Regions from separate parts of the Homo sapiens genome. Here all the other regions are reported to be linked to region 2. The links are microRNA targets in miRTarBase. Many come from high-throughput screens and were not tested one by one. Region 2 holds a microRNA gene; each other region holds the end of a gene's coding sequence.
What was found. The annotated mature microRNA hsa-miR-6781-5p reads CGGGCCGGAGGUCAAGGGCGU and lies in region 2 at 6,012-6,032, shown strand. An mRNA with a match to its seed (bases 2 to 7 or 8) in the 3' UTR can be bound and repressed. Matches are read on the target gene's strand: a 7mer-m8 pairs with bases 2 to 8, a 7mer-A1 pairs with bases 2 to 7 and ends in A, and an 8mer does both.

Region 1: miRTarBase lists ZNF703 as a target of hsa-miR-6781-5p. Seed matches in the 3' UTR shown: 7mer-A1 at 4,903-4,909 and 7mer-m8 at 4,156-4,162.
Region 3: the mRNA of BTBD9 is a reported target of hsa-miR-6781-5p. Seed matches in the 3' UTR shown: 7mer-m8 at 441-447.
Region 4: miRTarBase lists AP2S1 as a target of hsa-miR-6781-5p. Seed matches in the 3' UTR shown: 7mer-m8 at 604-610 and 7mer-m8 at 610-616.

What each region holds. Positions count from the first base shown.
Region 1 is chr8:37,695,897-37,703,776 of GRCh38, reverse strand. ZNF703 (zinc finger protein 703) reads right to left here. Exons shown (of 2, transcript NM_025069.3): 1 at 7,555-7,880; 2 at 3,758-6,632. The coding sequence starts at 7,797. The coding sequence ends at 5,103. Among named protein-coding and RNA genes, the nearest start is that of ZNF703, 4.1 kb to the right of the region's middle. RefSeq lists enhancers at 4,119-4,630, 7,064-7,606, 7,607-7,880.
Region 2 is chr17:42,822,953-42,829,949 of GRCh38, reverse strand. MIR6781 (microRNA 6781) reads left to right here and starts at 6,007; the gene lies at 6,007-6,070. BECN1 (beclin 1) reads left to right here and starts at 5,668. Exons shown (of 12, transcript NM_001313998.2): 1 at 5,668-5,795; 2 at 6,071-6,202. The coding sequence starts at 6,073. RefSeq lists enhancers at 4,739-5,305, 5,310-5,439, 5,306-5,874, 5,875-6,441.
Region 3 is chr6:38,172,501-38,175,500 of GRCh38, forward strand. It overlaps BTBD9 (BTB domain containing 9), which reads right to left. Exons shown (of 11, transcript NM_001099272.2): 11 at 1-2,682. The coding sequence ends at 2,485. It overlaps LOC124901315 (a long non-coding RNA gene), which reads left to right and starts at 2,678. Exons shown (of 2, transcript XR_007059571.1): 1 at 2,678-3,000.
Region 4 is chr19:46,831,235-46,839,031 of GRCh38, reverse strand. AP2S1 (adaptor related protein complex 2 subunit sigma 1) reads left to right here. Exons shown (of 5, transcript NM_004069.6): 4 at 233-292; 5 at 484-865. The coding sequence ends at 585. Among named protein-coding and RNA genes, the nearest start is that of SNAR-E, 4.4 kb to the right of the region's middle. RefSeq lists an enhancer at 323-823.

The DNA.
Region 1 (7,880 bases), not on the chromosome of region 2:
CCTTTCCGGGCTGCAGGTTTTTAATGTCTTCTTTGTTGGTCCGGGCCACTGGAGACTGAACTGAAGGGAGAGACTTTAGGCTGTTCCCTCCCTCCTGGATAAAATGGTGCATGCTTTTCCTGTTTAAACAGGGCCCAGTTGTGAAGTGCCCTGACTTCGCACACACCAAGGCCCGGCAACGGCTGCAATAAATCAATAGGAAAATAGAAGCTGCCAGTTAGACTAAACAAGTGCATTTGCAAAGACGGCTAGCCCTCATTAATCACTCTGACAGTCCTAAAAACACATTTCCCCTTTAATGACTGTATTTGGATAATCAGTGCTTTTTCCTCCTCAGTCAGAGTTTGAGTAACAGACAGCTGGTGTTATTACAGCCATTGGGGAGGGAGTGCTGGGATTAGGGTCGACGAAGAGCCATCCACTGGAGGTCTCCGAAAAAAAAAAAATGAAAACCGGGTTGGCTGCAAAGCTGTTGTTATGCAATAATGAGGGGGAGCTTTGTACTGCCATTGACGGCTCCCGGGCAGCCATGTGCAAAGTTTCCCCCAAACCTCGACACCCACCTGCATTATGTGAATACAAAGGCTTCATGTTGGGTTTTATGAGCTTTGGCAGATTTAACTGGGGTTGGGGAGGCAGGAGGCTCTCTGGCAGGGAGGTAAGAAGATGGGTTGATGTGATTTGGCTTTGTTTCCTTTAGGTGACTTTGGCTTTCAGGAGAAAGTTTGAAACCCGGCACATTCCTCTTTGTAAATGATGTAACACATTAATGCACAGCACATTATGAAAATGGTAATTCAAACCCATAGTGCTCCAAATTAAACCATACATTATCGGATGCACTCAACCATCTATTTTGCAAAAAGACAGGATGAATGAAATCAAATCAAACAGAAAACTGGAGTGCAGCTTCCCCTACAGAATGATTAATAAAGTGTAGAGCCACAGGATTATTGTAAGATGAATTCCACCGTAACCCAGACATACATCAGGAGGGAGTTAGTTCATATACCCAGAGATACAATCACAGTATGCTAGGTAGGGCAGAGCAATTATGGCTGCAGAAAGATGGGGAAGGGCCCCACACCTCCCGCTTGGGCTATGAATTTCTTAGGAGATGGGTTTGCGGGTGTACAGTTGGGAAGTTAAAAACTTAACACCACATGATTTTGTTTGAGTCCAGCCTATATCCAAGGGTGAGTCTTTCCCCTCTTTCTCCTCCTCCCTTCCTCCCATGGCTGCCACAAGGCCACAAAAATAACCAGGCAAGAGGTGTGAAAATAGGACCTGGAGCCAGGAACGTCCAGTGTCTCAAGTTCCAGCCCTGTGGCTTCCACCCTTCCTGGTGCTTTGGGAACACCGGCCCCATTTCTGGCGCCTGGGACAGATTAGGAGAAAGAGGCGGAGGAGGGCTGGGAAGAGGAGGTGGAGAAATGGAAGGTGGAGGTGACCCTCAAAGAAAGGGTTGCTGGAGGCATTAATTATTCAAATAAGCACTGGATAGGGGAGCACCACCTCCATTAAGATGGCAACTTTGTTTAATGGGAATTAAGCTATTGAAAGTAACAAACTTTTCATCAGCTTATTAAAACTGTCACATTTCTTAGGTGGGGAGAGCCATCTTTTCAGAGTAGAACTGGACACTCCAGACTATGTGACCTGCCCTTTGCGGCCACAATGGTAGTTGGGGGCAGCCTATTCCCACCAGGCCCAACAGTGAACTTCCCAGTCACCAAAGGCCACCAATACATTTTATGGGGGAAACTCTGTAGTCTAAGGAGTTCTCTAACTGCATTCTTACACCTAAGGTATAAGCCAAACACCTTTTAGAACAGTTTCTTTTGGTATAGGGAATTTGCTGGTTGTGCGTCCCTTCCTTCCTTCCTCCCAACAAGAGGAGCCCTTTGGTTTGTAGATAGGGAGGTCTGAAGACTTGAAGTGTAAGAAAGCAAAGTTTAAGTCGCCCTACAGAGGGAGCAATTTCCATCATTTTTAGCAGGCATTAAAAAACATAGTGAGGGGGTGGGTCTCTGAAGGAAAGAGGGGCCTTCAGAGGAAGGGAAGATGGCAAAGAAATAATAAACAACGAACAAAACAACAGAAAAAGAAACAATAAAGCCACGAGTCGCTACATTTAGTTCGTTTAAAGATTCGGGCCAGATTGAACCCCGAGAAATTGGATAATGCTGGTTTCCCAGGAAGACCCTGATCTGGTCTCAGGGCACTTTCTCTAATTCGGGTTTCCCAGTGCCCAGTGGTAGGAGCACCCCAGGATCCCTTTCCTTTTGCTAGATCCAAAGATTTGGTAAAACACACACACACACACACACACACACACACACACACACACACACACAAACACACACACACACACACACACACACACACACACACACGCCCTGTCTGTCGTCGAGTTTGTGGACAACCAAAAACAGCGCAGAGAAACCGGCCCCATCCTACGCACTGCACTTGACCTCGGGCCACAGACGTTTCAAAAGCATGCACCTTTCAGAGCACGAACTCCCAAGTCGCATTCCTTACAGAAAAAGCAAACAGCACAACCCCAACGACAGATCCCACGAGGAGCGCGGCCAGGAAGCGGCGCAGGAGGCGGTTTTGCAGAGCGTCCCATTGGCCCCGCGCGCCCAGGCCCTTGCGCAGGGAGCAAGCGCCCCCGGCCCGATGGAGCGGGGTCCTGGCGTCGGGCAGCCGAAGTCTGAGCCGCCGTGCCTTGGCGGGCGCAGCCCGCTCTCGCTGCTGGGGGTAGGGCAGCGAGTCTGCATTGGGCTGGACGTGGCTGGGCCTCCCAGAGCTGTCCCTTCTCTCCTCCCGCCTTGGACACTCGCGCAGGGCCTGTCTATGGTACAGGGGGCAGGCTCCCTGGCCAACACGTCAGTAAACAGCACCCGCCCTCTCTTGCCCGAGGATGCAGAGGCCAGTGTCAGTCGTGCGAGCTCAAGAAAATGGACGAGCCAGGCCCAGGGGCCCGGCTCCTCCGGACTGAGAATGGCTTCAAGGTCTTGAGTCATCGTCGCATCTTCTCAGCAAAACCCAAACCCTGTTTCGAAGTTTCCGGGGCGCAGATGACCCAGGTCGACAACCCAGCGATGGCTGAGGGGAGCCCCCAAGCCTTGAGAAGCAACCCTCTCAGCAGGTGCCTTTACCCTCTGGTCAGGAGAGAGGAAACGCCCCACAAAAACAGCAGGTAGGAATCCTTCGCGTTCAGAAGATGAGAAGAACCAAGGTGCCGTCGGGGCTAGTGCGGGCTGCGCCTTCTCTCCGAGGCCTGTCGCTCGTCTTCCTGCCACCAGGTGGCGCCAAAGGCGTTTCGTCTCTGCCCGCCAGGCCGCCGGGCTCCAGGACTGCGCTGCTGGAGTCTCTGCCGGAGCCCTTGGTGCTGGGGTCCTGGGGTCCCTTCTTAGCCCCCTTAGCACGTCGCATCTGGGCCCAGAGGAAAATCCACTTTTACACACACCCTCCACCCTGGCCCCAGGAAATGTCAAGGCCTTTGAAGTGAGGCTGGGAGCTACATAACCAACTGGGGAAAAAAATTAAAAGGTGGTTTTATGTTATTTGTAATGCGTTGGCAGAAGTTTTGTTTTTTCTCCCCCATTTCTTGAGGAAAGGCATTAAACTCGTCCTTGAACGGAAATCACAGAAGGAAACCATAAGGCATTTTAAACAAGAATAAAAGAAGGGCATCTGCTTAGGTGTCTGGAAGAGGGTGGGCGAGGCAAGAGAGAAAAACACCACGGTGTGAATATAGCCAAGTATTCCATTTATTAACAAAATAAGTCTTACCAAGGGAGAGCTCTGTTCGTCCCAAACAGGCCCCGCAGCCCCCGCGCTGCCGCATCAGACCAGAAGGAGGGAGGAGTGGGGAGAAGACCCCAGTCGCTGGGGGGTCCACTCTGGGGGCTCTGCCGGGCCAGGCCTAGGAGAGGGCGGGGGCTGCTGTGATCCGAGAGCTCCCTGACGCCCCAACCTTCCCCGAACGCAGCTAACGAGCTCGTGACATCCGCTGACATCGCCACCGGTCTGCTTTGGAGGGATCTAGCGAGAGTCACCTACCCCACCCCTACTGCCAGGGGAGGGGTCGTTGCCCCCACGAGGGAGAGAAAAACAAGGACTATAATGCACTTCGCAAAATGTAAGGGGCCGGCTTCACGCCAGCGGGGCCTTCTGGGACTTTGAATTCAACCAGGTGAGCGCTCCAGGTGCCCCGACAGGCGCACTGTAGCCACTGGGTGTTAGGGGCGGGAGTCTGGAAGGTGACGGTAGACGGCCACTTGGGCCCTTCTGGGGGCGAGCCTACTGGTGGGGTCAGGGCTCTCCGTGCTCAGAGCAAGGTAGAGGAGCAAGGCCCTACTTTTGGGGGGCAGGGTCCAGACCAAGGACCCTATGCGCGGAGGGTGGCGGGGGAGGAGTCCCGGAGCAGTGTACCAGGTCAATAGAGCTCCAGGGCCCCTGCCACCCAGGTGGCCCCCTCCACCCCCAAAATGAGTTACAAAAAAAACCTCCTCTCTGTTACTTGTACAACAAAGGAAAAAACAAAACAAAACAAAACAAAAAACAAAAACAGAACCGCAAATGGAAGGAAACAAGAGGGAATGAAGGGGGAAGAGGGAAAAAGAGAAGGCGGAAACGTAGTTTTAAGTTAAGACTCATGCAAGAAACTCCCCAGGAAGGGAAAACAAAACGTCTAGAAGAACCCAAAGACCCCAACTCTCCCTCAAACCAAACCAATCAAAACCAAAAAAAGAGGAAAAGGAATAAAAAATGTAAAACTTATATCTAAGAAAAAATAACAGAAAGGAACAGGGGCGGGGATCATGTCGTTATTTGTGGGATTAATATTATTATTTGGGAGAACACAGACTTTTTGCATACCATTGACTCATGTGGGCCGTTAATGCACTTATATTCCCAGCTTGTAAGCTAACATTATAGTAAATAAATACACAGTCCGGTGGGGAAGGGCTGGGTGGGGAATCCCGGCAGGGTCAAGCAGTAGTGGAGGTTGCAGCGGCGACGGCAGGTGGGGAGGGAGGAGGAGGGAGAGGGAGGAGGGTGAGGGGGCTGGGGTGGAGGAAGAGCTGTAGTTACTGGTATCCCAGCGCCGAGGCTGAAGCTAGTCTCTGTCCATACAGCGCGTATGGCGAATAGTAGGGTCCGGCTGTGGGGAGGGACGGCACGGCCAGGCCCCCCGCTGTGGATAAGTGGCTCTTGCCATAGGGGTGGTACCGGCTTAGGCCCAAAGTGTGTGGATTCCGCAAGGACAGCGACCCGGGGCTGCCGGGGGCGGCGGGCGGGGGGAGGTGCAGATGGCAGGAGGCGGCGGCGGCGGCGGCGGCGGCGGCGCTGCCCAGGCCCGAGGCCCCGGGGTAGGCGGCCAGAAGTTTCTCGGCTCCCGGCAGGGCCGTGTGGGTCCGTAGGTGGCTGAGCAGCTCCTCCGAGGTGGCGAAGCGCTTGTCGCACGGCCCACTGGCTGCCACCCAGTTGCAGCTGTGCGGCAGCGGTTCGTTCTGCAGCATGAAGCCGTAGGTGTAGAGCGGGTGGCCGGGGAGCGCGGCCTGGGCGGCGCTGGACGAGAGCGCGGCGGGCTGCAGCGGGTGCCCGGGGTACACCAGCGGGTAGCCCCCCGCCTTCAGGCTGGGCCCGGCAGGGTCGTGCGCGCTGCAGGTGGAGCAGCTGGAGCCGCCGAGGTGCGAGGCGCCGTGGTAACCTCCCAAGCAATAGGGGTCGCGGCATAATCCCTGCAGGAAGGAGGGCGGGGAGGCCCCGGTGAGCGGGCTGGAGCTGGGGGGCTTGCCCGGCGGCAGGCCCAGGCCCCCAGACAGCTGGCCTCCCACGAGGCCGGACTTGCTAGGATCCAGGCCAGGCACGAACTGAGACGGGTAGCCGGCGTAGGCGCCCACGATGGAGCCGTGGTAGCCAATGCTGGAGGGCGGCAGCGGGAACACCGAGTGGCCCGGCTTGTAGGGAGACACCGGCGCCACGTGGCCGGCCCCCACCAGCGCCGAGGGCGGCTCGGACTTGCGCCCGGAGGCCCCGGACTCGGCGCCACCGTGCGCCCCGGGCTCCCCACCGCCGCCGCGGCTCACGGCTGCCGGCTCCGGGCTGGGCTTGGGCTCCTGGTCTTTCTTGTCCAGCTCCCCGCCGCCAACCCCGCCGCCGTTCTTGCAGTCAGAGTGGTGCGGGGAGCCGCCGCGGGAGCCGCCGGGCGACGACGAGGACGAGGATGCGGAGACCGGCGCTCCATGCGGGGGAAAGGGCGGGCAGGCGGCGCTGGGGACCCTGAAGCCCGCCTTGTCTCCCGGGGACGAGGAGGACGAGGAGGAGGTGGAAGACACCGAGGAGGAGCCGCTGTCTTTGCGGGAGTCGCCGCCGCCGGAGCCCTTGGAGTAGGGCTTGAAGCTGGACTTGTCCTCGGCCGGTGAGTCCCCCAGCTGCTTCAGGGCCGCGGCTGCGGAGGCGGCGCCCGGGGCTGAGCGGCCGGGGTCCTTCTCCGCTCCCAGCCCGTTGGCCGCCGCCGCCACCGAGTTGAGTTTGGAGGAGGGCGGCGGGTCCGGCTTGCCGATCTGCGAGCAGGTCTGAGCCAGCAGCGCCAAGGGGCTCTTCTTGGCGTCCAGCTGTGGGAGACAGAAGCAGGGGGAGGGAGAAGGAGTGAGACTCAGAGGCCTGCGGGGCGAGCGGGGGCGCCCGGGGAGCTGGGCGGCGGCGCCACGGGGCGGGGCGGGCCTGGGGAGAGGGTCTGCGAGCGAGGGCCGGGCCGGGCGCGGCAGCTGGCGGAACTGCGCCCACACTGCCGCTGGGTCCCGGGGTGCGCCGCAGGCCCTGCGGAAGGAGTTCACCCAGGACCCCTGCGGGAGAAGGTGACGTCTCTGGAGTCGGGGCTGTGACTCGCCACTTCCCTCTAATGTCCCCCTCCTCCAGGCCCAGGAAAAAACTTATTCCTTTAGTTTGGGGGAACTTCGCTTGGGACGGGTTTCTGGCGATGGCGCCGCGGGGTAGGAGAGGGGAGCGCGGATTCTAAAGGAGGGGCTGCAGTTGGCGCTCTCTCCGTAGCCCCTCCCTCCCGGGGAGGGCACCCAGGGAAGAGGCAGGAAGAAAGATCCGGGATCGGGAGCGCCAGGGCGCCGTGCGCCCTCACCGGATGGGACAGAGGCGAAGTGGGACCCGGGCAGCCAGGGCTTCAAAGAAAACAGCCCGGCGTGGGGGGCGGGGAAGACCCAGCAGAGACCAACTCCTGGCTGGAAACTGGGGATCAGAGGAAAAGTAAAGGACCCAGAGGGGACTCCAGGAGCAAATCCAATCCGAGAGAAAACACGGAGCTCCGAAGGGCGAGCGTGGAAGGAGACCCTTCCACGGGGAAGCCTGGGGAAGCCCTGGTGGGCTCTGATCCCTCGGTTTTCTTCCCCTCCTCACTCAGCCCGCCAGCGTGACCAGACTTGGGTGTCGCACCGAGCCCCGGGGCGCTGGGAGCTGGGTCAGGGTCCCGGTCGCGGTGGGAGGAATGGGGCCGGCGCCCGGGGGCAGCGGCCGGGGACTGACCTCAATGGGGCTGACGGGAGTGGAGGACAGCGGCTGCAGGTACTCCGGGTGCAGGAGGTGACCGGTGTGAGCGCTCAGCATCTTCAGGACCCTGATCGGGAGCCGGTTCGCCTGGCGCAGGGGGTCCGCCGGTGGCAAGAGGGACACCGCTGCCGGCACCGCCGGCCTCTTCCCGCCGCCGCCGCTGCCGCTGCCGCTGCTTTCGGGTGTCCTTGGGTTAGATCCAGCGGGCGAATCGCTCATTTGGAGGAGGCAGCGCCGCTGGGGGGGCGGGGAGGGCGGGGGAGCACCGGGGAGGCGAGCTCCCGGGGCGGGTGGGCTCGCTC
Region 2 (6,997 bases):
GGATCTATGCATGTTCATAGCTTTAAGTATCATCTGTATTCGGCCAGACACGCACGGGGGCTAATGCCTGTAATCCCAGCACTTTGAGAGGCCAAGGCAGGCAGATCACCTGAGGTTGGGAGTTCGAGACTAGCCTGAACATGGAGAAACCCCGTCTCTACTAAAAATACAAAATTAGCTGGGCGTGGTGGTACATGCCTGTAATCCCAGCTACTCGGGAGGCTGAGGCAGGAGAATCACTTGAACTGGGGAGGTGGAGGTTGCGGTGAGCCGAGATCGCGCCATTGCACTCCAGCCTGGGCAACAAGAGCGAAACTCCATCTCAAAAAAAAAAAAAAAAAAAAAAATCTGTATGCTGATTTGAGGGCCCCAGATTCGTATCTCCCATCTGACATCTTCACTGAGTTCTAACCATCTATTTGATGTTTCTACTTGGAAACCTAATGAGCATATCAAACTTAACATGGCCAAACCAGAATTCTTGATTCTCCCACACACCTGTTATTTTCCTATTCTTCTCCATCTCAGTAATTGACATAACTGTCCACCTAGTTGTTCAAACCAAAAACCTAACAGTCAACCTTGATTCCTCTCTTTTCCTCGTCTCTCCACATTCAACCCATCAGCAGGTCCTGTCAGCTTTCCCTGTATAATGCATCCTGTATGAGTGTGCTTTCCTCCATCTCTTGTTACCCTGGCCAAAGCCACTGTCATCCTTTGCTAGGACTATTACAATAGGCTCCTATCTGGTCTCTCCATTTCCACTCTTGCCACCCCCCACCAACTGTCACATTCTGTTCTTCACTCAGCACCAAAATTTATCATTGATTGATTGACTGACTGAGACAGGGTCTTGCTATGTTGTCCAAGTTGGTCTCGAACTCCTGGCTCAAGTGATCCTCCCGCCTCAGCCTCCTGAGGAGCTGGGATTACAGGTGCACACCAGGCCAGCTCAAAATAATCTGCTAATATGTCAGCCACAGAGATGGTAGCATCTACTCAAGCTGAATATACCTAAAGAGAGAGAGAGAAAGAGAAAGAGAGAGAGAGAGATCCCAGAAACCTCAACTCTAGGGACCCACCCAAGAGAAATGCATAAATATATTCACCAAAAGACATGAACAAGAATGTTCATAGCAACACTATTCACAATAGACCAAACTGGAAACTACCCAGATGCCTCTTAACAGCAAGAGAGATATCTATATTTTAATATAGTCACACAATGGAATACTACAAAGTATTGAGAATGTATGAACTAAAACTACACAAGGTGGGTGAATCTCATGATGAGCGAAAGGAAACAAGAGTATGTCATGTATGATTCCATTTACATGAAATTCAAAAAACAGTCAAAACTCAATCTAGGGTGTTAGAATTGACAATATTGTTTGCCCTTAGGGTGGGCATCAATTAGAGGGTGGCATGGGAGAGGGAGTTGGGTACTGGTTACATTGACGTGTTCATTTTGTAAAAATTCATTGAAAATACATGTATGATTTGTGTCTTTTCCCCTATGTATTCTATCCCCCCGTAAATAGTTTCTTTTTAAGTCAGCCAGTCAAGTCTCTTCCCTACTTACCACCCTCAGTGGTTTCCAGATAACATAGGCCTTCCTGAATCCCCCAGTTGAAGCAGCTCCTCCCACCCTGCCCCCACTTACTCTCTATCACATCACCTTCTTACCTACTGTATTAGCTTTCTAGGGCTGCTGTAGCAAAGTACCACAAAGTGGATGGCTTAGAACCAAAGAAATATATTGTCTCAGAGTTCTGGATGCCAGAAATCCAAAATTAAGGTGTCAGCAGGACCATGTTCCTTCTAAGGGAGCCAGAGAAGTATCTGTTCCAGACCTCTTTCCTGGCTTTTGGTAGCCTCAGGTCTTCCTTGGCTTACAGATCACCCTGTGTCTCTTTACATCATCTTCCCTCAGACACGGTACATGTCTGTCTCTGTGTCCAGATTGCCCCTATTTATAAGGACGCAGTCATATTGGTCTAGGGCTAACATCAATGACCTCATCTGCAACGATCCTATTTCCAAAAAAGGTCACATTCCCATGTGTTAGTCCCAGATGTTAGGACTTCAACATCTTTTGGGGGACATCATTCAACCCATAATATCTGCCATTATCTGAAATTATCTTATTAACTTGGTTACATGTTTACTGTCAAATTCTCTCCTCTGGAATATAAACTATTAGAGCAGTTCACCAGTATATCCTCTCAGACCTAGAATAGGGACTGGCACATAGTAGATGCTCAATAAACATCTGTTGAATCGATGACTGAGGATATGTTGTGTATTATTCACAATCCCTCAAGCACTACATACACTGATTACATATACTTCCCAAGTGTGAGGATACACAGAGCATTCACTATGTAACAGTCATTCCCCTCCATTCCAAATGTATCAGCTCATTTATCACACTACCCTTTATGATATTTACTACTGTATACTATTAATCTCATTTTGTAAATAAGAAAACAAAGCACAGAACAGTTGAATAAATTGCATAAGGTCACATGGTTAGTGGATGGTAAAGAACCAGGTGGTCTCAACTTCCAAATCCTCAGTTGTAACACTATACCCCCTACCTCTCTAGAAGCCCGTTACTTCTCTATGCGTTTCTGAGATGTTAGGGACAGCCAAGCAGGAAGAAACGCAGGACTATGAAGCAGCCACACCAGGACTAGGTGAGAATTCTTTGGGGATGATTCCAGTCACCTCCCCTAAAGGGGCTTTCATGCTGAAAGAGCCAAGAGGAAGAAGGATTGTAAACACTATCCCTAGTCACAAAACCGGGAGAAAAATCAATCTAGTTCCACATATCACATCCAATACCAACTATAAGAAACCACATACATTTAAAAGAAAAGAAAGACACTTCTGGAGGTGGGAATAACTTTCTAAGCAGTATAAGTCATCAAGAAAAATAAGCAGATTTGACTTGAAAATTTAAAACTTCCTGAACATCTGGAAAATAATTAAAGCATTCATGAAAAATTACTAAAAATACTGAGAAAAATACTAATAATCCAATACCTAAATAATCAAAGAATGCAAACATAATTCAGAAAAAAGTAACTACTGCTTGAGCCCGGGAGGCGGAGATTCCAGTGAGCTGATATTGCACCACTGCACTCCAGCCTGGGTGACAGAGTGAGACCGTGTCTCTTTTTTTTTTTTTTTTTAAAAAAAGGCCGGGCATGGTGGCTCACACCTGTAATCCCAGCACTTTGGGAGGCCAAGGCGGGCAGATCAGGAGGTCAGGAGATTGAGACCATCCTGGCTAACATGGTGAAACCGTCTCCACTAAAAATATAAAAAATTAGCCGGGTGTAGTGGTGGGCGCCTGTAGTCCCAGCTACTCGGGAGGCTGAGACAGGAGAATGGCGTGAACCCAGGAGGCAGAGGTTGCAGTGAGCCGAGATGGCACCACTGCACTCCAGCCTGGGCAACAGAGCAAGACTCCATCTCAAAAAAAAAAAAAAAAGTAACTACAATAAGCAAATACATAGCAAAAAGTTCAGCCTTACCAGCAATCAATGATGCTAATTAAAATAACAAGGAAGTGCCATTTTTTGCTTTTGTTCCCCAAATATATGATACCCAATACTGGCCAAGGCAATATGAAAACAGGCTTCCTCATACATTACTGGAAGCAGAATATAGTTATGTGCAAGCACTTTGGAAAATGATTCCCAGTGTTAAGGAAGAGACATTAAATAGCTGACACACTCTTAATTCTGTAGTCCCAGTTATGAGTCTCTATCATAAGTAGCCAGCTCTTCATTGCAGGATTATTGTAATCACCCACAGGGGAAATAGTAGAATTTCCAGCGGTAAAAAAATACACTAAGGCAGTACATTTAGTGTAGTGTAATGTAGCCATGATAACTACAATAACTGTGTAGCAACATAGAAAAATGTTAAATTTAAAAAGCAGAAGCCTGGGCAACAAAGTGAGACCCCATCTCTTTTTTTTTTTGAGATGGCGTCTCGCTCTGTCACCGAGGCTGGAGTGCAGTGTGAGACCACATCTCTACAAAAAATTTTAAAAATTAGCTGGGCATGGTAGTGATCACCTGTGGTCCCTGCTACACTGGAGGTTGAAGCAAGAGGATTGCTTGAGCCAGGAAGTCAAATCTGCAGTGAGCCATGTTTGTTTGTTCCGCTTCACTCCAGCCTGGGTAACAGAGTAAGACACTGTCTCAAAATAAAAATAAAATAGACAATACTACATACAATTTTGGGTTAAGCAGTGGTTTCTTTTACACCAAAAGCATAAACATTGGACTTTATTGAAATGAAAAACTTTTGGCCAGGCACATTGGCTCACACCTGTAATCTCAGCACTTTGGGAGGCCACAGTGGGGGATTGCAAGGGGAGATGGGAAATGTTCTAAAACTGGATTATGGTGATAGTTGGGCAACTGTGTAAATTTACTAAAAATTATTGAACTGTACATTTAAAAAGTGTGAGTCTTATGGTATGTAAATTATACCCCATAAAGTTGTTTTTAAAAATGAAGTAAGTCCCTCTGCTCAAGACCCAGTCATCTCATCTCATTCAAAGTGAAAGCCAGAGCTTTACAATCCCTATAAGAGCCTAGGTGGTAGCTCAACACTCTTACCTCCCTCACCCCATTTTCTGTATCTCTTTTCGTTGCCCATCTTCTAGCCACACCAGCCTCTGCTAATCCCCAAACAGGTACCCTCTGTGCTCTTGCTGTTCCCTTGGCCTAGAATGCTCTTCCTTAAGATGCAGGTAAGAATTCCTTCCTCACCTTCTTCAAGCTTTTATTTGAATATCACTTTCTTTTTTTGTTGGTTTTGTGTGTGTGTGTGGGGGGGGGGGGTTTGAGATGGAGTTTCCTTCTGTCGCCCAGGCTGGAGTGCAGTGGCATGATCTCGACTCACTGCAACCTCCGCCTCCGGGGGTCAAGCGATTTTCCTACCCCAGCCTCCTGAGTAGCTGGGATTACAGGCGCACGCCACCATGCCCAGCTAATTGTATTTTTTAGTAGAGACGGGATTTAACCATTTTGGCCAGGCTGGTCTCGAACTCCTGACCTTGTGATCCGCCCGCCTCGGCCTCCCAAAGTGCTGGAATTACAAGCGTGAGCCACCATGCCCGGCCTTTTGTTGTTGCTGTTGTTGTTCTGAGATGGAGCCTTGCCCTGTCGCCCAGGCTGGAGTGCAGTGGCCCGATCTCGGCTCACTGCAACCTCCACCTCCCAGGTTCAAGCGATTCTCCTGCCTCAGCCTCCCGAGTAGCTGGGATTAAGCTGGGATTATAGGCGTGCCCCACCACGCCCGGCTAGTTTTTGTATTTTTAGTAGAGACGGGGTTTCACTGTGTTGGCCAGGCTGGTCTCGAACTCCTGACCTCACGTGATCCGCCCTCCTCGGCCTCCCCAAGTGCTGAGATTACAGGCGTGAGCCACCGCGCCCGCCGCCCCCTGAATTTAGAGAATAGCGGAGCCTCCCCATTCTCTGCGGCCTTGGCTCCTACACTTCCCGTGGTAACCTTGTTCATCCGCTGAAGCCCGCTGCTTTTCCCAGCCCGGCCTCTGGGGGCCGCTGCCGGGCCTGTGAGCCTGTGGACCAGGAGCTCCTGCTGCCGTCGTAGCGTCACGTCCGGTCTCGGGCGGAAGTTTTCCGGCGGCTACCGGGAAGTCGCTGAAGACAGAGCGATGGTAGTTCTGGAGGCCTCGCTCCGGGGCCGACCCGAGGCCACAGTGCCTCCGCGGTAGACCGGACTTGGGTGACGGGCTCCGGGCTCCCGAGGTGAAGAGCATCGGGGGCTGAGGTGGGACCTTAGAAGGGAGTCTGGGAACCCTCACGGCTCTTATTGGAGTCCCTTCCCTGACCCTGGGCTCTAAACTGCCTTTGCTCAGGCTGTCCCGGAAGCAGGTCCTCCCCGTATCATACCATTCCTAGAGGGAACGGCGCAGGTTGGGACTTCCCTCCCTTTACCATCGTCACCAAGGCATGTGGTAACCCCGGGCCGGAGGTCAAGGGCGTCGCTTCTCCCTAATGTTGCCTCTTTTCCACGGCCTCAGGGATGGAAGGGTCTAAGACGTCCAACAACAGCACCATGCAGGTGAGCTTCGTGTGCCAGCGCTGCAGCCAGCCCCTGAAACTGGACACGAGTTTCAAGATCCTGGACCGTGTCACCATCCAGGAACTCACAGGTCAGCGAGACCCTTGGAAAGAGGGTGGTCAAGAATGTGGAAGGTGGGCAGCTTTGGTGATATAATTCTTATGGTGGCTGTGTAGTCTGCCACAAACTCATCGTGTGAACCTAGGAAAGTCACTTCATCTGGCTCCCTGTTTTCTCCTTGGAAACATAAAGCATTCTGACATTGTGGACTTCTGAGAGCTTTCCGACCGGGCGCGGTGGCTCACGCCTGTAATCCCAGCATTTTGGGAGACCGAGGCGGGCAGATCACCTGAGGTCAGGAGTTCGAGACCAGCCTGGCCAACATGGCGAAACCCCTCTCTACTAAAAATACAAAAATTAGCCGGGCGTGATGGCACGTGCCTGTAGTCCCAGCTACTCGGGAGGTTGAGGCAGGAGAATCGCTTGAACCGGTGAGGTGGAGTTTGCAGTGAGCTGAGATCGCACCACTGCACTCCAGCCTGGGCAACAGAGCGAGGCTCCGTCTCAAAAAAAGAGAGCTTTCAGTAGCAAAAGAAAGATCCTTATTTTCTGCTCCTGCTGTTTCAGAGAAAAGGAATATGTATATATAATAATAAATGGTATTTTTTGAGGACTTACTATATAGTAATACCAAGTGCATTACACGTATTACTTCATTTAGTCCCTGTAACAACCCGTACGGGGTATACCGTCATTACATCATTTTTCAGATGAAGAACCGAGGCACAGAGAGGTTAAGTGACTTACCTAAGGTCCAACAGCTGGTAAATGGAGTAGAGTCTTAAAGTCTGAAGAATTTGCTGGATGTGATGGCTCACGCCTGTAA
Region 3 (3,000 bases), not on the chromosome of region 2:
CCCTCAGGGAAGGGCAGTACCCCTCCAGCCTGGGAAAGGAGGTGAACCCGTGTCCTTTTGGAGTCCAGGGCAGGCTCCCAGCAAAGCGAGGGGGAGGCGAGCTGGCAGCGCGGCTGTGAGGGAATGAGACTTTGCCATCAGTCCTCACCAATGACATCTACTGTTAGTGCCACCCCATCGTCCCCATACTTCTCTTTATCTGATGATAAGGGGCATCTTTAAAGTGCTAGAAGACAGGAGGGACAGAGATCTGGAAGGGCATGCCCCGAAGGAAAGAACCGCCACAGGCCAGGGAGCTGCAGATGTGGGTCTAGGGCCGAGGCTTTGCAGCGTATTCCTTTTCAGATGCGAGGCCGAGCTGCCAAGCTGCTATCTCGTTCCCGGAGCACAGGAGGGCTCTGCGTGCTCTGTGGGCAGGGGACTGGAGGGTTGCAGATGCAGGGCCGGGCAGCTCCTCCAGCACCCCCACCAGCCCACCCTCTCTTCCCAAGGTCAGCAGCATGCTGCTTCAGGCCAAGGGCCTCTGGGCAGGTGATGCCCATGTTTAAAAAGAAGCATGTGAATGGCTCATTTCAAAATGTTTGAACTCTGCCCTTGATATGACTGTCTGGCTCCTTTGTCCCCATCTGGGTAGAAAACACACTGGGGAAGGAAGTGCTGTGTGTGCAGGAGCTCTCTGGCTAATTGGCAACCCGGGGCTGGGGGCTGACAGAGTCAGCAACCATGCTGGAGGGCCCCCCACTGTGAGCGGGCGCCCACCGTTCCTTACAGGAGCCTCCTCCCATTATGAAATGCCTGGCATCCCAGGAGTGTTCCACTCTCCCACACAACAGGGAAGTGGCAGAGATCAGAGCTGAGGGGATAGGAAGCAGCTCAGCCCTGCAGCTGGAGCTACCGGGGAGGATGGAGAGCTGCAGACCCTGGCTTCTCCTCAGGAACGTGTCCACCCTGCCCCGGTAGCCCTCTGATGTCTGCCATCCTGTGTTCACACGGAAAGACAGTCTTCCAATTTAATCACGCAGTTTGATGCTACCCTACTATTTCCATATGGACAAATCACTCAAAATCAAGTTAAACTAGGAGGAAGCGGCTGACCCGTTGGCTCTTTCTAGAGCGCAGCTGATATGTCTTTGACACACCTGAAAGGAAACTCCCACGCCCTCACCCTCCTTTGATCAGGGTTGCAGGTTGGCGCCGAAGACCCAAGGACTGCAGTGCTGCTCACGTGCCATGCCGTCCTGGGGAGACTCCCAGGCTGATGCTGATGGCGACAGAGGCCGGAGCTCTGGGGACAGCGGAGGGGCAGGCAATGTTGTGCGCAGTTACCCAGGGCAGGCAGCACTGGAATGGAAATCACTAAGTAGGAGACGGAGCCACATCAAGCCACCATCGTCAAATGAGGTCCTTTTGATGAGGATTAGGAGAAAAGCTTCTTGGAACTGCTATTTTTCAGTCCCCAGTTGAGTACTGTGGTGTGGGGGAAGCACGGAGTCCCAGTTCTGCGTTCCTGACGCTGATGGGCAGGTGGCTGCCTCTCCAATGCTTCGATAAACACAACTGGAGGGGCAGCTAAGCCACGGCAGTCCCCGGCAGGTTTGGCCACGCCAGAACTCGGTATATGTTTATCTACATGGACTTCGGAACAGTGAATTAGCAGCGGGCATAGTAACTATTTCCTTGTCAGCCTCCCAAGCTTAAAGGCTGGATCCATGTCAGGAATGACAGGTGAGTAACTCAGCCACACGAGTGACTATTAACTCCAGTGTCCACAGGTTGATTTGCTTGTGTGCATTTGTGGCACTTCCTCTGTGGCCCAAGTGCCAGGATGAGCTGCATCCGTGTCTCATTTAGGAGACATGCACGATGGGTCTCTGTCCCCGCAAGCTGAACCGTTCAAAACCAAGGAAGGAAAATTATAGCATCAAAAGGGATTAAAACTAGTGATTTGCTGTTTGAGCATTTCAAATAGATCCGGAACACCTATGATTCACTGAGTGGAGAATAACTAAAACAAATAAAAAATCATTTAGTTGCCAGGGCAATGTATTCCAGCAGAATGAACACTCTATGGAGGCCCATTCCTAAAGGGTGCCTCCAGGTAGCAAAGGCCCAATGGCTTTCTCCTCCGCCTGAGTGTTTGCGTGCCATTTTTGTATTCCAACACAGGCCTGTCTATGACTTCCTCCTGTTCCCTGCGCCTGGGCTAGATTAGAGAGGTAGGGTGTTAATGGTGGACTTGATGAAGATTGAAGACCCATTTTCTCCCCCTTGAGACCTGCCTGATTTGGATAAATTGAGAAGAACAAAGCAGCCCCTTTCTGTCCTTGGGAGAAAACCTGTTCGGTGTCTGCTTTTGCAGCTAGGTCGGCTCCTCCCTGGAAAGGGGCAGAGGTGGGGGCAGTCAACAGAGACCCCTGCTCAGGGAGGAGACCGTTTCCTGCCGTTGCCCGAGCCCACCAAGTCACACCAGGCCCGCTGCCTCCTTTATTGGTGCTGCCGGTTGGGGGAGCGTGAGTTGGAGCCTGGGCTGGAGGGTAGTGAGCTGCCACTAGGCGCCCGCAGCGCATGGGAGTCGAGCTGCTGACCGGCCAGGCTGGTGTCCCCTGTCCCCGATTCCTCACTATTTTCCTCCTTCTGGCTGCTCTGCTGCTCTGGACACTCAAAGTGGACACAGTGGAACACCTGGGAGAGAAAAGGAAAAGACCCCATGAGTGAAGGGTCAGCATGCGGCCCTGGAGTTGCCGCAAGTTGGGATACTGCCCTGCCCAGCTTTGGGGGCCACCACGAGGGAGTTAGAGGAGGTCCTTCCCACTGCCCACGCCTGCCCCGGCGCAGACACCTGATGGCAACTAGCATGCTGTAAACACATTTTGATCAGTCAAGAGGAAAGGAAATGAGCCAGTGGCCCAAAAGTTAGAGACACCATGACACGGATTCCCACAAAATCTTCACACTGGATTACTCCGTTTTTGCCAACCTTTGTCTAATGGGCTCTTTTTT
Region 4 (7,797 bases), not on the chromosome of region 2:
TACAGGTGTGAGCCACCGCGCCTGACCTTTTGCCATCTCTTTGCATCGATCTTTGCTTTTGTTTCTCTCTGTGTGTCTCCTTGCCTCTCTCCCTGTCACTGTCTCTCTCTCTCCCCTGCCTCCCCCTTGGTCTCTTTTTTTGCTGTCTCTTTCTGATGACCTTGTTCCCATCTCTGTGCGTGTGTGGCTCTCTCCCTGCCCATCTCTTACCATCTCTGCCTTCCTCTCCCAGGTCTTAAACGAATATTTCCACAATGTCTGTGAACTGGACCTGGTGTTCAACTTCTACAAGGTAGGCTCCTGGTGAAGAGGAGGCTGAAGGAGCCAGAGGAGGGGGACGGGGGGGACCCGTGGTGCACTAGCCACCCGGAGCCTCTGCTGAGGTCTGTGTCCCAGCTCGAGGGGCATCAGAGCCCCAGCTTCCAGGGTCCGGGCCAGCATCCTGGGGGGCCTCGTCTCACCCCAGGGTCTCCCCTCACACAGGTTTACACGGTCGTGGACGAGATGTTCCTGGCTGGCGAAATCCGAGAGACCAGCCAGACGAAGGTGCTGAAACAGCTGCTGATGCTACAGTCCCTGGAGTGAGGGCAGGCGAGCCCCACCCCGGCCCCGGCCCCTCCTGGACTCGCCTGCTCGCTTCCCCTTCCCAGGCCCGTGGCCAACCCAGCAGTCCTTCCCTCAGCTGCCTAGGAGGAAGGGACCCAGCTGGGTCTGGGCCACAAGGGAGGAGACTGCACCCCACTGCCTCTGGGCCCTGGCTGTGGGCAGAGGCCACCGTGTGTGTCCCGAGTAACCGTGCCGTTGTCGTGTGATGCCATAAGCGTCTGTGCGTGGAGTCCCCAATAAACCTGTGGTCCTGCCTGGCCTTGCCGTCTTTGAGCCCTTGCCTGTCTCCCCTGGGAACCAGATACCTAGGATGCCTTGCCTTCAGTCCATCAGTCAGTCAGTCAACAAACGCCCCTCATTGTGCTGAGCAAGGTGAGACACCCAGGTGCTCTTCAGACCTGCTCCTGCTCACCAAGGGCCCCCAGGCTGGAAGGGGTGATGGGTTTAGATTCCAGGCACTTGCTACTAAAATAACAATACTCAGCTAATGCTGAAGGGCACTCACCCTCTCCCAGGCATTGTTCTAAGCAATTGACATGTCTTACCTTACTTAAAGCTCACTAGATTATAAGTCTGGGACTATTTTTTTTTTTTTTGAGACATGGTCTCACTCTATTGCCCAGGCTGGAGTGCAGTGGCAGGATCATGGCTCACTGCCGCCTTGACCTCCTGGGCTCAGTTGATCCTCCCACCTCAGCCTCCCAAGTAGCTGGGACTACAGATGTGTGCCACCATACCTGGTTAATTTTTTTTTTTTTTTTTGAGATGGAGTTTCGCTCTTTTTGCCCAGGCTGGAGTGCAATAGCGCTAGCTCGGCTCACTGCAACCTCTGCCTCCCAGTTTCAAGTGATTCTCCTGCCTCAGCCTCCAAAGTAGCTGAGATTACAGGTGCGTGCCACCATGCCCAGCTAAGTTTTTTTTTTTTGAGATGGAGTCTTGCTCTGTTGCCCAGGCTGGAGTGATCTCCTGGCTCAAGTGATCTTCCTGCCTTGGCCTCCCAGAGTTCTGGGATTACAGGCGTGAGCCACTCTATCCGGCCAAGGACAGGACTGTTATTATCCCCATTTTCCAAGTGAGAACATTGTTCCAGGAATGTTTCAGGAACATTAAAAGACTTGACCAGGCTGGGCGCAGCGGCTCACGCCTGTAATCCCAGCACTTTGGGAGGCTGAGGCGGGTCAAGAGATTGAGACCATCCTGGCCAACATGGTGAAACCCTGTCTCTACTAAAAATATAAAAATTAGCTGGGCATGGTGGCATGCACCTGTAATCCCAGCTACTCAGGAGGCTGAGGCAGGAGAATTGCTTGAACCCGGGAGGCAGAGGTTGCAGTGAGCCGAGATTGTGCCACTGCATTCCAGCCTGGGCAACAGAGCGAGACTCCATCTAAAAAAAAAAGACGACTTGACCAAGGTCTGTAGCTAGTCAGTAGCCAAGCCAGGTTTGTTTTGAGCCAGTTTTGAAGCCAGGTGGGTAGCTCCAGAACCCTCATTTTTATCTGCTCGCCCCGGTGGTTGTTGGAAATGTAGGCACTGGGCTTGATGATTTGTGTTTCTTGGCAACAGCACTGCTGGCATTTGGGCCAGGACAATCCCTCATTGTGAGGCTGCTCCAGAAGTGGATGGACTTTTGACTTCCACCCACCAAGTGCCAGAAGTGGCCTTCTGGCCATTGTGATGATAGAAGCCACCCCTGAGTGTTTCTAGGGCCCTCTGAAGTTAAGGGGCCCCCGATGCCCACTGAGAGCAGAGTGTGGGGGCTGCTGGCCACACCTATGCCTGGCATCCTTCGCAAGCTGAGAACACCCTGGCCCCTGTCAGTTTCTTTCCTTCCTTCCTTCCTTTCTTTTTGACAGGGTCTTATTCTGTCACTCCCCAGGCTGGAGTGCAATGGCACAATCTTGGCTCACTGCCACCTCTACCTCCCAGGCTCAAGTGATTCTCCTGCCTCAGCCTCCCGAGTAACTGGGACTACAGGCGCCTGCCACCATGCCCGGCTAATTTTTGTATTTTTAGTAGAGACGGGGTTTCACCATGTTGGCCAGGCTGGTCTCGAACTCCTGAGCTCAAATGGTCCGCCCGCCTCAGCCTCCAAATTGCTGGGATTGCAAGCCTGAACCATGGTGCTCAGCCTCTTTTTATAAATATAAACTAGCATGTTAGTTTTTTATTGCTGCTGTAACAAATTATCACAAACTTAGCGGCTTAAAACAACACAATTTTATTCTCAATGAAATCTGAAATGGGTTTCAGTGGGCTAAAATCAAGTTGTCAGCAGAGCTGTCTGGACCATCTAGGAGAGAATCCTTCCCTGCCTTTTCCAGCCTCTAGAAGTTGCCTCCTGTTCTTGGCATGTAACCCTATCCTTCATCCTTCAAGCCAGCTGCGGAGCATCTTCCAGTCTCTCTCTCTCTGGCTCTGACTGATTTTCCTGCCGCTTGCTTTTACTGATAAGGACACCTGTGGTTACATTCGTCCCACCTGGATAATCTAGGATCATCTCCCCATATCAAGACCCGGACTGTAATCACAACTGTAAAGTCCCTTTTACTGTGTAAGACAACACATCTACAGGTTCCGGAGATGAGGATGTGGACATTTAGGGCGTGCTATTATTCTGCCTGCCACTTATATGGTGTCTATGTAAGAACTGGGGGCTGGGCGCAGTGGCTCACATCTATAATCCCAGCATTTTAGGAGGCCAAGGTGGCAGATCACTTGAGATCAGGAGTTCAAGACCAGCCTAGCCAACGTGACAAAACCCCATCTCTACTAAAAGTACAAAAATTAGCCAAGTGTGGTGTTGGGCACCGATAATCCCAGCTACTCAGGAGGCTGAGGCATGAGAATCACTTGAACCCAGGAGGCTGGGTTGCAGTGAGCCGAGATAGTGCCACTGTACTCCAGTCTGGGCGACAGAGTGAGACTCTTTTTGTCCCAAAAAAAAAAAAAAAAAGAAAAGAAAAGAATTTGGGCCGAGCATGATGGTTCACACCTGTAATCCCAACACTTTGGGAGAACGAGGTGGACGGATCACTTGAGCCCAGGTGTTCAAGACCAGTCTGTCCAACATGGTGAAACCTGTCTCAAAAGAAGAAAGGAAAGGAAAGGAGAGGGGAGGGGAGGGGAGGGGAGATTGGTTTTGTTAAGGTCAAAATCACACTCTGCTAGCCGAGTTAACCAGAGAGAGGATTCTAGCCGATGGAACAGCAAGTGCAAAGGCCCTGAGGCAGAACTTGCAAGAAGGCCAGTGTGGCTGGAACAGAGTAAGCAGAAGGGGGTTCGAGATGGTTCAGAGTGGGACTGGGGATGGGAGGGGAAGTCCGATCACACAGGGCCTGCTCGGGTTTATTCTGTGTCTGATGCCCGCTATGGGAAGGATGTTTCATTTTGGAGAACCTGGGGGATGGTGGTAACAGCTTTTTTGGGATACATACAATTCACCCATTTATGGTATTACAATTCAGTGGTTTTTGTTATATTCACAGAGTTGGGTAACTATCATCACAACCCATTTTAGAATATTTTTATCACCCCAAAAAGAAACCTTATCCTTCAGCCATCACCCCTCAATTCCCCTAGCACCTGGCAACCACTACTCCACTTTGTGTCTTATTGGATTTGCCTGGGCAGTTCATATAAATAGGATCATTTAATATGTGGGGCATGGGACAGTTTTGTGCCAAATCTGATGTAAGAGGTCAAGAATTGGGAGCAGAGCTTGGGTGCAGTGGCTCGTGCCTGTAATCCCAGCACTTTTGGAGGCCGAGGCAGGCGGATCACCTGAGGTCAGGAGTTTGGCCAACGTGGTGAAACCCCGTCTCTACTAAAAATACAAAAGTATCCGGGCGTGGTGGCGCATGCCTGTAATCCCAGCTACTTGGGAGGCTGAGGCAGCAGAATTGCTGGAACCTGGAGGGTGGAGGTTGCAGTGAGCTGAGATCACGCCATTGCACTCCAGCCTGGGTAACAAGAGTGAAACTTCGTCAAAAAAAAAGAAAAAAAAAATGTGCCTAACTAGCTACTGTAACACTTGACATGGATGAAGCTGGAAAACATTAAGCTAAGTGAAAGAAGCCAGACACAAAAGGCCGGATATTGAATGATCCATTATAGGAAACATGCAGAAAAGGCAAGTGCAGAGAGACAGAAAATGATGACGGGTTGTCAGAACCCAGGGGAAATGGGAGGGAGATGATAGCTAAAGGGTACTGGGGTTCTTTCTTGTTTTGTTTTGTTTTTAGAAGACAGGGTCTCACTCTGTCTGCCAGACAGTGGTGTGATCATAGCTCATTGCAGCCTCGACTTCTTGGGCTCCAGTGATCCTCCTCCCTCAGCCTCCCGAGTATCTTGTACTACAGGTGTGCATCACCACACCTGGCCAATTTTTTTAAAAACTTTAATTTTAATTTTTTTTTTTTTTGAGACAGAATCTTGCTCTGTCGCCCAGGCTGGAGTGCAGTGGCACAATCTCGGCTCACTGCAAGCTCTGCCTCCCGGGTTCACGCCATTCTTCTGCCTCAGCCTCCCGAGTAGCTGGGACTACAGGTGCCCACCACGCCTGGCTAATCTTTTGTATTTTTTAGTAGAGACGGGGTTTCACCACGTTAGCCAGGATGGTCTCGATCTCCTGACCTCGTGATCTGCCCGCCTCGGCCTCCCAAAGTGCTGAGATTACAGGCGTGAACCACTGTGCCTGTTTTAAACCTGGCCAATTTTAAAATTATTTTTCTTCGAGACAGGGTCTCGCTATGTTGCTCAGGCTGGTCTCAAACTCCTGGCCTTGAGCAATCCTCCTGCTTCAGCCTCCTTTTTACTTGTTTTTCTTTCTTTTTTTTTTCTCTCTTTCTTGATTTCTTATTTCAATAACTTTGGTATGCCCTGGCCTTCTGAGGGGCGGGGATTACAGGCGCAAGCCACTGAACCTGGCTTGGGTTTCTTTTCTTTCTTTACTTTTTCTTTTCTTTTCTTTTCTCTTCTCTTCTCTTCTCTTCTCTTTTCCTTTTCTTTTCTGTCTTTCTTAACTTCTTTTCTTTTCTTTTTTTTTGTGAGGGAATTTCGCTCTGTTGCCCAGGCTAAAATGCAATGGCATGATCGCAATGATCTCAGCTCACTGCAACATCCACCTCCCGGGTTCAAGCGATTCTCCTGCCTCAGCCTCCCAAGTAGCTGGGACTTCAGGCACATGCCACCATGCCTGGCTAATTTTTTTGTGTGTTTTTTTTAGTAGAGACAGGGTTTCACCATGTTGGCCAGGCTGGTCTCGAACTCCTGACCTCACGTGATCCACTCGCCTTGGCCTCCCAAAGTGCTGGGATTACAGGTGTGAGTCACTGCGGCCGGCCGTATACTTTTTTTTTTTTAGTGGAGTCTCCCTCTGTCGCTAGGCTGGAGTGCAGTGACACAGTCTCGGCTCACTGCAACCTCCACCTCCCGGGTTCAAGGGATTCTCCTGCCTCAGCCTCCCAAGTAGCTGGGACTACAGGCGCACGCCACCACGCCCAGCTAATTTTTGTATTTTTAGTAGAGACAGGGTTTCCCCATGTTGGCCAGGATGGTCTCAATCTCCTGACCTCGTGATCCACCCCCCTCCTGCTCCCAAAGTGCTGGGATTACAGGCGTGAGCCACCGCGCTTGGCCGAAGTATACATTTTAAATAAGTGAATTGAATGGTATGTAAATATATGTCAACAAAGATGTTACAAAACACCTGAATGAATGACATTTACCTTGTAGTTGTAAACAGAAAAACAACGAAAATGCACAAGAATTTTTTTTTTTGAGAGAGAGAGTCTTGCTCTGTCTCCCAGGCTGGAGTGCAGTGATGCGATCTCGGCTCACTACAAGCTCCGCCTCCCAGGTTCATGCCATTCTCCTGCCTCAGCCTCCCAAGTAGCTGGGACTATAGGTGCCTGCCACCACGCCCGGCTAATTTTCGTATTTTGTTTAGTAGAGACAAGTTTCACCGTGTTAGCCAGGATGGTCTTGATCTCCTGACCTCATGATCCGCCCACCTCGGCCTCCCAAAGTGCTGGGATTACAGGCGTGAGCCACCATGCCTGGCCACACGAATGTTTATAGTGGTTTTATTCACCAAAAACTGGAAACAACCTAAATATTCTTCAAAAATGAATAGAAAAACAAACTCTGGCCCCTCCAGGCAATGGAGCACTCCTCAACATTGAAAAGGAATGAACCCGGCCAGGCGCAGTGGCTCGTACCTATAATCCCAGCACTTCGGGAGGCCAGGGCAGGAGGATTGCTTGAGGCCAGGAGTTCGTGTCCAGCCTGAGCAACATAGTGAGACCCCCATCTCCACCAAAAAAAAAAAAAAGAAAAATATCCTGGACATGGTAGGTATCACACCTGCGATCCCAGCTACTTGGGAGGCTGAGATGGGAGGATTGCTTGAGCCCAAGGTATTGAGGCTGCAGAGAGCCAAGATCTAGCTACTGCACTCCAGCCTGGTCAACAGAACAAACCCTATCTCAAAATAAAGAAATAAGGCCAGGCACAGTGGCTTACATCTGTAATCCCCGCACTTTGGGAGGCCGAGGTGGGTGGACCAGCCTGGCCAACATGGTGAAACCACATCTCTACTAAATACAAAAAATTAGCCGATGTGGTAGCGCATCCCTGTAATCCCAGCTACTTGGGAGGCTGAGGCAGGAGAATCGCTTGAACCCGGGAGGCGGAGGTTGCAGTGAGCCAAGATTGTGCTATTGCACTCCAGCCTAGGCAACAGAGCGAAGCTCCATATTGGAAACAAATTAATAAATAAAACACATAAATACATAAATAAATTTCATGCACGTACTTGTGAGGATATAACTGGTTTTTTCGATGTCTTAGGATCACACCGTATGTGGTTCTGCAGCTTGCTATCAGTGCATCTTGGAGGTGATTCTGTGTATAGTCTGTGTGGAATCCCGTTATGTGGGTGCATCCTATGTTACTTAACCAGGCCTGCGTGGCTCCTCCTAATGAAGATGAAAGAATGTCTTTGCCCACGTGCATTTTCACATACATGTGGAGGGTAAGTACCTGGAAATGAATCTCTGGGCTGAAGGGTACATGTATCTGTAACAGGTCATTTGATAGGTTCACCCCAATTGCTCTCCAAACGGGCTGTGCTGATTTTTACTCTCTGGTAGCATAGGAGGAGACCCCCTGTTTCCATGTAGCTTTGCT